Homo sapiens: one gene and its partners. The protein of the gene in region 1 interacts with the protein of each later gene in a biochemical or structural test. Each region holds a gene or a part of one and is shown in the gene's direction. Other genes may lie near its edges.

Region 1 (3,653 bases):
TTTGTTTTTTGCCAAGCTTATGTTCTCTTAAGATTAATAAGACGACATATTCAGTAAATCCCTTGGGAAGTGGCATTTATTCAGAATATCAACCTCCTACTAGTGCTGGGGGCGGGTGGCGGCGGTGAGGGTGGTTAGTATTTACCATTCAGTTAAATCTCATGTGCCATGTGCCTTCTACACCCCTGTACTGTGAGAGGTGATGCTCAGAATAACAGTTGCAAAGCCCGTTAAAATTACCACTTGTCAGATTTTCTCTTCATAGTGCTGATCTCTCCATGACTTACGTTTTAGGAATCACCACCTCTCTTCTAATTTTCTGACTAATGTTCTGTTAATGAGAGAATTGTCTTAACCCTAAAACCTGCATTCCCTGAGCATTCTAGACAGAGGGTTTATTTTATGTGGTGGAACGATGATTTTTGAGATTGTTTTGATTTAAAATATATGTCAAATGAGGTAATGTACCGATGGCCAAGGTATGGGTAATTTGAGTGCAATTCGCCAGAATCCGTGCCCCTTGGAGGGAGTAAACATTTCAGGACTGCAGCTAAAACATTGACTTACACTCTCCTGAAGCCCAGGCACCTGGCTTACACAGTGCACTAACATAACTGAAGTCTGGGTTTGATCACTGTACAGTTGACAAAGAAGCAGTAAGCAGAATGGTTAAAAAGTAGTTCTGGAGCCAGACTGCTTAAGGTCAGGTTCTGGTTGTGTCACCCACTTTAAAGCCTTGGGCAAGCTCTTCTACCTGGTAACTAGTGCCTCATTGTTTCCTCTGTAAAACAGGGGTGGTGATAGTAGAATCTGTATCAGAGAGGTTGTTGTGAGGATTATATGCGTTAATACGGGGTAAGTGGTTAGAACAGTGCCAGCTTTATAAGAAACATCAAGTGTTAGGTGTTATTATCTGTTGTTCAGAATCAGGGAAGTACTTAGTTACACAGTAGTGTTTTATAGCTGTTGAGAGCTGAATTGCCGGCATTGATCACAAGTGAGACTGGAAAAACAACCCGGGGAACACTCTTATGTTAAGTCAGTAGCACCATCTCAAACATACATCCAACTTCTGAGGGCAACGAACACAGGACATAGCTTTTTACTTAAAGGAATCTTAACAGTCTCAGCGGAGTGCTTGAGGTAGTCACTAACCAGTTAATTGAAACTGGCTTTTACGAAATAAAAACACTTGCCATTCTTTGGCTAGTCTTTTCCACGTTGTAGTTGACATTGTGGCCTGGCAGCTTTAGTAACCTGTCCACCCCTCCCTTCTTGTTAATACCAGAACAGAACTAGTTTCTCAGTACATATTCCTGGGCCCTATCCAGTTTGTTGGAAACATTTAGAATGTAAATTTGTAAGCTAATTAGTTTCTTCTAAGTATTATGTTTTCTTTAGATGATATGCCTGTACTAATACAGAAAAATTATCCATGAAATGGATATGAATACAATGGACATATTTATCGTATAGCTTTTTGTACCTGTTAGTAATTCAGAAAGGTTGTGTTATTTTGACCATTCTTTCAGCCAGATTGTAAGTTTCCTGATGGTGAGAATCTGTGTCTTTCTGTTTTATCTCCTATGGCACTCTGAATGTGCCTTGGCTGTGTTTCTTTAATAAACTGTTGGTTGCTGAACTGGGTGGTATGATATGCGTTCATTCTAGTTCTGTGATTTTGAAACTTGGGAATGTTTAACAGATTGAAGGAGAGAACATCGTGTGTGGTACCTTGTAAGTGTGCACTGAGTTGAAATTCTTTTGATTATTTAGCTTTCTACTTTCTGTTTTTATCATTGGTGTGATTATTGAGAAGGCAGCTGGAATTAAGTAATTCTAGTTCATCTCCTAAGATAGACATAAAACTTGTCTTGTGACTTATTTTTACCCATAATTGGATTAGAATTGAATTGAGCAAAATATAATTTGGTTTTCTAGATGTTAAATGTCTTATATGTCTAATACTTTGAATATCACTCCTCTAGAACAGGTTCTTTGTTTTATTTAGGATCAGGGACAGGTTAGAAAATATTCAAATATTCATAGGATAATAAAAAACTGCCCTGAAGCAAACGTGAGGAAGAAGAAATAGTGGTAGCCAGAATCTTGGTTGTTAATGACCAGTGTAGAAACACAGTGGGCATGCAGTGAAATTGGCTGGCAGCTGGTTCCTTCTCAGTACGGGCACAATTTAGAAAATGTTACATTAATGCAGCTGAAATTTTGTGCAGATCATGTTATTTGAAAAATAAATGTAAACACTTTTTGCAGTGCCTTAGGAAAGTCATCGTTCAAACTAATATTTTTGTAATAAACTAGTTATTCCCAGTTTTTTTTTTCTTTTTTTTTTTTTTGAGATGGAGTATCACTCTGTCGCTCAGGCTGGAGTGCAGTGGCGCGATCTCGGGTCACTGCAACCTCCGCCTCTTGGGTTCAAGCAATTCTTCTGCCTCAGCCTCCGTAGTAGCTGGAATTATGGGGCACCCCCCACCATGCCCAGCTAATTTTTGTGTTTTAGTAGAGATGGGTTTCACCATGTTGGCCAGGCTGGTCTCGAACTCCTGACCTCAAGCAATCCACCCGCCTTGGCTTCCCAAAGTGCTGAGATTACAGGCGTGAGCCACTGTGCCTGGCCCCTAATTATTCCCAGTTTCTTTCAGGTAAAGTTTTTTTCACTTTTTAAATTTATCATTTTTTTAGATCAGATCAGTCAGTGGACAGTTGCACTCTACTTCCCCATCCCTCATTAAAGTGGAATTACACTAAAAAAGGTTTTCAATTCCTTTGTAGCCTGGACATTAGTAATAGCCTACCTCTAAGGCTGTAGAGTAAATAGTATAGTAAGGGAAATGTCCCTCCCTCCCCCTACACACCTTTTTTCCAGTTATCTCTTCTTTTTATTGATTTGTCTGCCTCCAGGACCCTAGGGAGGTGTTTTTGTCCTAAGGAGGTGAACTCCTGAGGGTCCTATTGAAGAAATAGGGCGACCTATCCACCCAACTTCCTCTTTACTGATATCTTCACATGCTTATTGCCTTATTCATTTTCTAAAGTGTGCCAGCGTCTTTCAGAAGTCAGCTAAATTAGTGCAGTTGCTCATCCATCAGACAGTTTTGTTATAAAATATGTGGCTATAAAAGATTGAATAAATTTATTAGGTTGTAATTTCATTAATGTGTATTTTATATTTAAATATTATTTTAAAAAATGTACAGTGGTTATCTGATCTTGGCCCAGGCCTCTTCAATTTCCAGTGTACCTGATGTCTCTTTATCAACTGTTTTTCTGAGGTGTATCTCAGCCTGGCCTTGGGTACTCCCCTAGGTAAGAGTCATAATTCAGGTTAAAAGAGGTAAGAAAAAAAAAAGCTTTTGGCTTTTGTAATCTTGTTTTTTTTTTTTTCTTTCACATTAGCAAAAGACTGTTGAAGTAGAGAGCATTTTGCCCAGCTCACTCGGATTCTTTGCTGGCATGCCTTCAGTTTCAGTTGTCATCCAGAGAAGTCAAAGGAAATGCTGCTTGGGGATGAGCATGTAATTACGATTAACTTTCCCTACTTCGTTGTCTCTTTGTGGTAAAAGACTGTCACAAGTGCTATTCAAACTATAGGTATTTTTTTTTAGATTTCTAAAAAGTATATTTTGTCTCTG
Region 2 (3,653 bases), on another chromosome or scaffold:
TTTTCCTTTATGATACGGCTTGGCCCCCAGGGCAATGATGCTGCAAGCTTGAACACTAGGACCACTAAGGGAAAGGGAACCCAGAAGCCTGGGATGCTGGCAAAAGGGTAAGAATGTATTACCAGTCAGATTTCTGGCTTCTCTCTCACTGTACAAATGGTTAAGTGAATGGTTAAAAAAAAAAAAATCAGCCTGGCACGGTGGCTCAGGCCTGTAATCCCAGCACTTTGGGAGGCTGAGGCTGGTGGATCCCCTGAGGTCAGGAGTTTGAGACCAGCCGTGGCCAACATGGTGAAACCCTATCTCTACTAAAAATACAAAAAATTAGCTGGGTGTGGTGGCGTGCGCCTGTAGTCCCAGCTACTTGGGAGGCTGAGGCAGGATAATCACTTGAACCCGGGAGGCGGAGGTTGCAGTGAGCCGAGATCGTGCCACTGCACTCCAGCCTGGCAACAGAGCGAGACTCCATGTCCATCTCAAAAAAAGAAAAAAAAGAACACCTGTAAGCTCGCTTTTCAAGATGACCCAGCAAGCTGGTCAGTAAGATACTTGGCTGCAGGTCCCTGTAACAAATAAAAGACTGGATGAAGTCTCCACCTTGTTTTACGTCCTTGGGAGCTTGACCTTTTAACCATGTGGTGGTACTTTCTTTTGGTCCCCACCTTCAGAGAACAGGAATTTCAGGATTCATGTCATAGTTAGCTCTAAAAATAATATTAAATAGTTAAAAGCCCTTATAAGCTCAAAATTAACTACTCTAGACTCCTTCTGGGAAGGTCAACAGAGACTGCCCTGTGCTGTAGCTCAGTAGCTAAGCTTTTGCACTTTCTTTTTTTTTTTTTTTGAGATGGAGTCTTGCTCTGTCGCCCAGGCTGGAGTGCAGTGGTGCGATCTCAGCTCACTGCAACCTCCGCCTCCCGAGTTCAAGTGATTTGCCTGCGTCATCTTCCCAAGTAGCTGGGATTACAGGTGTGTGCCACTACGCCCAGCTAATTTTTGTATTTTTAGTAGAGATGGGGTTTCATCATATTGGGCAGGCTGGTCTCGAACTCCTGACCTCAGGTGATCCACCTGCCTCAGCCTCCTAAACTGATGGGATTACAGGCATGAGCCACCGCACCCAGCCAGCTTTTGCACTTCCGTGGCAACAGTCCAGGTTCAATTACCCACCTAGGAAGTAAGTCGTTTCTGGTTTAATATCTGCATGACTTTGTCTATTCTCTTCTCCTCTGTGAACTGTCTTATATTTTCCTTTTTCTAAGCACCTGGGAGGTTACCTTTGATAAAATTCAAAAGCCAGAAATACCAGCCGTTTGGCATAAAAACTTCTAAAAGGACTTTATTAAAGAGTGCTATGGTTAAAATAAGTTTAATTAAAAGTGGATATTCAAGCTCTAACAGCCTGGACTCCTTGGGAAAAACAAGAGGCACCAGAGACCCCTTTCGTGGCCCTGTTCTTCCAAGGGCTCCACCCTGAAGCCGGTAATCCAATTAAGAAACTTAAAAACTGGCAAATGAAAAATCTTACAACCACTGTTATCATCATCATCTGTCTTTCTGTGTAGCTATATAGGTGTCGTGTGTAATATTTATATAAAAGAGCTCTGATTAATCAGCTTAAACAAAAATAAACATTTAAATCAAATATTTTGAAAGCAAAATAACTAATGCCTTTTAGTTCATGTAACTTTAGTAATCTTTAGGAAATAAACACATCTTTAAAATTGATAAAAATGTTAATCTTAATTATGCAGGTCAGATATTAAGTTTGTTAAATGATTTGAGGTCATAAACTGTTTCTTTGACTTTTAAAAATTGTTCAATTTACCCTACCTTAAAGCCATTAGATTCTAGATAAGGCCTGGGGACATGTGGAGTTAGCCACGCCCCTAAGCTGTGCTGGAGAGTCAGCTCTTATCTGCACTTCTGCCTGGTGTGTCCTAGGCTAGGCTCCACACCTAGTACATAATTAAAATTGCTTACTAACCAGGGTTTTCACCAAAAGTAAAAGTCGCTAAAAGTTAAAATTGGAACATGTAACTGAGACTATTGAAGAGACAGTTTTACATGTAAGGTGTGTAGTAAGGAAAATAGAATGTACTTTTGGTAAAAGATTATAAGAAGGCATGGAAATGTGGGGTTTTTTGGCTAAAGAGTTAAATAATTATTCTAAGTTGGCCGGGCACAGTGGCTCAAACCTGTAATCCCAGCACTTAGGGAGGTCGAGGCAGATGGATCACCTGAGGTTAGGAGTTTGAGACCAGTCTGGCCAACATGGTGAAACCCCATCTCTATCAAAAAATACAAAAGTTAGCCGGGCATGGTGGCGCACACCTGTAGTCACAGCTACTCGAGGCTGAGGCAGGAGAAGCGCTTGAACCTGGGAGGGGGAGGTTGCAGTGATCTGAGATTGCACCACTGCACTCTATCCAGCCTGGGTGACAGAGCGAGACTCCATCTCAAAAAAAAAAAAAATTCATACAGGAAGCATTATCAAATGTCAAATGGTGTTTTGCTTTCTTTGGATTATATTTACATAACTGTATTATTGGTATATGTTCCAAAGTTATGGGAAACTCCTATAATTCTAATATGATTTAGTGTATGTTATTAATAATTATAATTGTTATGCAAAATATTGTGTGCCACAGAAGTAACCAAATTTCCTTATCATTTCTGGCTTTAATAGTGGCTCTCCTAAAACTTTTTATCATCCACAGACAATTGTTGTCTTGTTTTAATCCTGTTTAGAAGATGATTTATAATCAGCTATAGAACTCTAGCAGGTGTTCTTAAATGCAGGTTTCTAATAACTTTGGAAATTGTAACATTAGAATAGAGGAAACAACTTTCAGAACTCATGAAGAGCTAGAATGTTCATGAATATCAAATGAAACATGAGTTAATTGAATCAACTGAACCAATAGAAAACTGAAGTAATCTTTGATTAAAATGTTGCTGATCCTTTGTTTTGTTTTTCAGAGTCAAGGAAACTTTTCATTTGAGCTATTTACAGTTCATAGCAATTGAGTAAAGTATACTGCTGTGAACGAAATTTGGAACATATTTGTTTCTCTATATCAGATTTCTCCAGAATTTGGAAACTAGTTGTGAGTATTCTTAACTTATGGCAATGTAATTATTTGCATAAGTGCAATAAGAATCTGTTTTCTTTTGTAACAGAATACAATTGGAGAAAGTGGTTATTTTACCAAGGCTTTGACTGAAATGGTGTGCTTTTCTTTAAGGAATCAAACTTGACTTGTAGAGCCAATAAAAGCCCTTTGGGGAACTGGCCTCATACCTTGCCTACACAGTGCCTGTACAGGGTTTCTGACCTATGGTAAGTAAAGAATGTCACTTTCTCACCTGTCCAGGAGCCCCAAGTTATCTTGGGACCTCAAAAGGAGAGAAATTTACCCAAGTTATAGGTATTTAAGGGTACAAACCCATGTCAGGGCTTGGCTTTTAAAAAAGTCTTATCTGAGATTCCTTATGAAACAGAGTTCCATCAAAGCCAATTAAAAAGCCTATGTGAAAAATTATTATTCTTGCTGCACTTTATACAAACAATCAGGCCAAGTATAATAAAGCAAGTCAGTCTTACCATAATTTGTCTTTAGTAAAAATGGGAAACTGGAGAGAGAAATACT
Region 3 (3,653 bases), on another chromosome or scaffold:
TAGAGCTCTGGGATCTGCAAGCCAGGGAGGGGGAGGCAGACGACAGAGCTAGAGTGAGCTCAGCAGAGCTTGCTTAGGGAGGAAGGACCCGCTGTCACTTCCCGAAAGCTGGGCCAGCCTCTAGGCGGGGAGAAGGTCAGAGTGGCCCTCCCTTCTGCCTCGGGGTTTGCCCAGGCTCTTCAGAGCACAGAATTTACAGTAAATGTTGTCACCAGTGGAAACTCTCAGAGGGGGCGAAGAAAAGGGCTAGAGGAAGGAGCCAGGACTCCCGGCCCCCAGTTCCCGTCTTACCAACACCCCCTAGTCTCATCGTGTTGCTTGATCTTACCTTTCGGTAAAGAGGGGATGCCCTCCTTCTGGGATGTGCCAGGAAATACCCAAATGGTAAAATGAATGAGCCGGCCACACCTTGCAGAAGGCAGGGCTGTGACTCCATCATCGTGGCTCTTGATAACTCCTCTGCCCCGTTTTAGAGGGGCTTCCTTTGTACTGACCTTGGCACACTTTCTAGCTCAGAGCCCCATTCAAGAAATGCCAGGTTGAGGCTGAGCATGCTTGTGTCTGTCCTTCACAGATGATGGAACCTGGCTTGATGAGCAAGGCCATGTTGGTATATGCTTCTCTGCCATTTAGAAAGACCCCCCCCAGGATGTGGGGTTTAAGATGATTGACAGTATAACCGATTAACCTCATTAGCCTACAGCTCATGCACCTGATGGATTCGTTAGGGCAAATTTTATTTTATTATTTTATTTTATTTTTTGAGAGAGGACCTCACTCCATCAGTGAGGCTGGAGTGCAGTGGCATGATCATGGCTCACTGCAGCCTCCAACCCCTGGTGCTCCATAGCTAATTTTCTTTTATTTTTATTATTGTAGATACTGGGTCTCAATAATGTTGCACAGGCTGGTCTTAAACTCCTGGGCTCTCAGGAGGTAGAGGTTGCAGTGAGCTGAGATCGCACCATTGTACTCCAGCCTGGGAGACAGAGCAAGACTGTCTCAAAAAAAAAAACCCAAAAAACCAAAAAACTGCTGGGCTCAAGCGATCCTCTCACCTCGGCCTCCCAAAGTGCTGGGATTATAGGTGTGAGCCACTGCACCCAGCCTATTTAGGGCAAATTTTAAATGTCAAGTTATCTTACATCTGCTCACCACCCACCCTATTTTTGAGTTACCTTCTTCATTCCAGCAGATGATGTCATAAGTCTGTCAGTCAACAAACATCTGAGTTCATACTATGTGCCAGGCATTGAGCCAGGCATTAACAAATAGGCATTTAATAAGTGCTTGAATAATTAAAACAAATTTAAAATAATATTTAACTAGTGCTTTCCAACTTGCCTGATCATTAGAATGACCTGTGGCACTAGTTAAAAATCCAAATTTCACTCCCTAGTAGTCTAGTGGCTAGGATTTAAAAAAAAAATTATTATTATTTTTTTAATTCAGCTCTGCAGCCAGGCATGGTGGCTCACGCCTGTAATCCCAGCACTTTGGGAGACCAAGGTGGGCAGATCCCCTGAGGTCAGGAGTTCAAGACCAGCCTGGCCAACATGGTGAAACCCCGTCTCTACTAAAAATACAAAAACTAGCCAGGCGTGGTGGTGCCTGCCTGTAATCCCAGCAACTCGGGAGGTTGAGGCAGGAGAACTGCTTGAACCTGGGAGGCAGAGGTTGCAGTGAGCCAAGATCACACTACTGCACTCCAGCCTGGGTGACAGAGTGAGACTGTCTCAAAAAAAAAAAAAAAAAAAAAAAAATTCAGATCTGCAGACTTCACTCCGCAAATCCCAAAACCACTGATTCACATTCCTAGATTTTAGGATGGGCCTGAAATTCTATTCTTAACAAGCCTTCAAATTAATTCTCATGATATGGCAAGTTTGGGAAATACTGACCTAATCCAAATAGATTTAGAAAGGTAAGACCTGGTCTCCAAATATCAGGTTGCCTTTTGAACTGAAATTTTTTTTTTTTTTTTTTTTTTGCATCTCCAATGATATTTGCCTTTCCTCTGTGGTTACCAATGCTTAGCAGAGAAAGTCTGTTTGGTTGAGTCGAATAATGTAAACCTTAAAATTATACCGGAATTGCGATCTCCTGGGCTTTCTGAGGATGGGATTGCTTTTCCATAATTGCTAATTACCAGATTGCAATTGTTGATTAATTAATGATGTGATCAGAAATCAGCACTTCTTAGCAGGCATTTTTCTGATTAGCATGTATTTGATGGTTCCCCCAAGCAACAGGGAAAAGAGTTTCCAGAAAAAAGAGAAGCTCACAGGCTTGGGACACCCCCAAAATACCGTCAGAATGCTTTCTGGTAGGCCGGACAGGGTGGAACAAAACGTTGTAGCAGACTTTGACCATTTAGTATTTATTTATTTCATTTTTATTTTTATTTTTATTTTTGAGATGGAGTCTTGCTTTGTCACCCAGGCTGGAGTGCAGTGGCATGATCTCGGCTCACTGCAGCCTCTGCCTCCTGGGTTTCAGCAATTCTCTTCCCCGAGCCTCCCGGGTAGCTGGGATTACAGGTGTGCACCACCACGCCTGGTTAATTTTTTTTTTTTTTTTTTTTTGTATTTTTAGAGACAGGGTTTCACCATGTTGGCCAGGCTGGTCTCGAACTCCTGACTTCAGGTGATCCACCCACCTCCGCCTCCCAAAATGCTAGGATTATAGGCATGAGCCACCGCACCTGGCCCCATTTACTATTTATAAAGACCCTGAGCATTCTAGAATCTGGGTGCAGTAGACAAGTATCCAGTGACTTTATTTGTAAGACGAAATGCAGACACCGGGAGCTTTTGGAAAACACGTGGCATAACACAGTGGAAAAGAGTGAAACTGGTGTAAGACGTTCTCACAAACGACCTTCCATTTCCTTAGGCTCTGGCCTGCCAGCTGCTTTCCCTTGCTGTATTCCCGCCACCTCCCACCCACACACCCTCACAGAGACCCCTACATGCATACACGCAGAGGAACACACTCACACACACCCCTCTATCAGGTTGAACCATATGAAATTGCTTTTTTGCCGGGAGGAGAGATGTAGTCTTGCTGTGTTGCCCAGGCTGGAGTGCAGTGGCTCAATCTCGGCTCACTGCAACCTCTGCCTCCCTGGTTCAAGTAATGCTTCTGTTTCAGCCTCCTGAGTAGCTGGGACTACAGGCGCACTGCCACACCCAGCTAATTTCTGTTTTTGTATTTTAGTAGAGACAGGGTTTTGCCACGTTGCCCAGGCTGGTCTCAAACTCCCCACCTCAGGCAATCCGCCCGCCTCGGCCTCCTAAAGGGCTAGGATTACAGGGGTAAGCCACCGCGCCCGGCCTGAAATTGCTATTCTTATAGGTCACAACAGACAAATATCAGCAGCTTCACGTGGTTCAGCCTCATATCTATGTGTATACATGCACACCCACCCATGTGCTTACGTAAACGCGCCCATACACACCTACAAACATATATACACTTGTGCACACATTCACACGTGCAGGAAAATTCTCTGGTGCCCTTCTCCATGGCTGTGCTAGTGAACAACTAATCTGGCCCCTCCTGTGTCCCTCCGCACCCCACCCACCTTGCCTCCTTCCTAGACACTAACCTCCGGTGCTGATCCCCACCCCTACAGGAGAGCGAAGACCTGG

Evidence for each region.
Region 2: the proteins of BACH1 (region 1) and ATF1 interact in a test that uses a peptide from one of them, tested with the Homo sapiens proteins (one large-scale study listed by IntAct).
Region 3: the proteins of BACH1 (region 1) and BATF interact in a test that uses a peptide from one of them, tested with the Homo sapiens proteins (one large-scale study listed by IntAct).

Annotation. Positions count from the first base shown.
Region 1 is NC_000021.9:29,301,787-29,305,439, forward strand, and holds part of BACH1 (transcription regulator protein BACH1), read left to right. Parts: intron 1-3,417; exon of another isoform or gene 3,418-3,536; intron 3,537-3,653. UniProt on the Homo sapiens protein: Transcriptional regulator that acts as a repressor or activator, depending on the context. Binds to NF-E2 DNA binding sites. Plays important roles in coordinating transcription activation and repression by MAFK.
Region 2 is NC_000012.12:50,767,047-50,770,699, forward strand, and holds part of ATF1 (cyclic AMP-dependent transcription factor ATF-1), read left to right. Parts: exon of another isoform or gene 1-107; intron 108-3,653.
Region 3 is NC_000014.9:75,542,825-75,546,477, forward strand, and holds part of BATF (basic leucine zipper transcriptional factor ATF-like), read left to right. Parts: intron 1-3,637; coding exon 3,638-3,653. UniProt on the Homo sapiens protein: AP-1 family transcription factor that controls the differentiation of lineage-specific cells in the immune system: specifically mediates the differentiation of T-helper 17 cells (Th17), follicular T-helper cells (TfH), CD8(+) dendritic cells and class-switch recombination (CSR) in B-cells.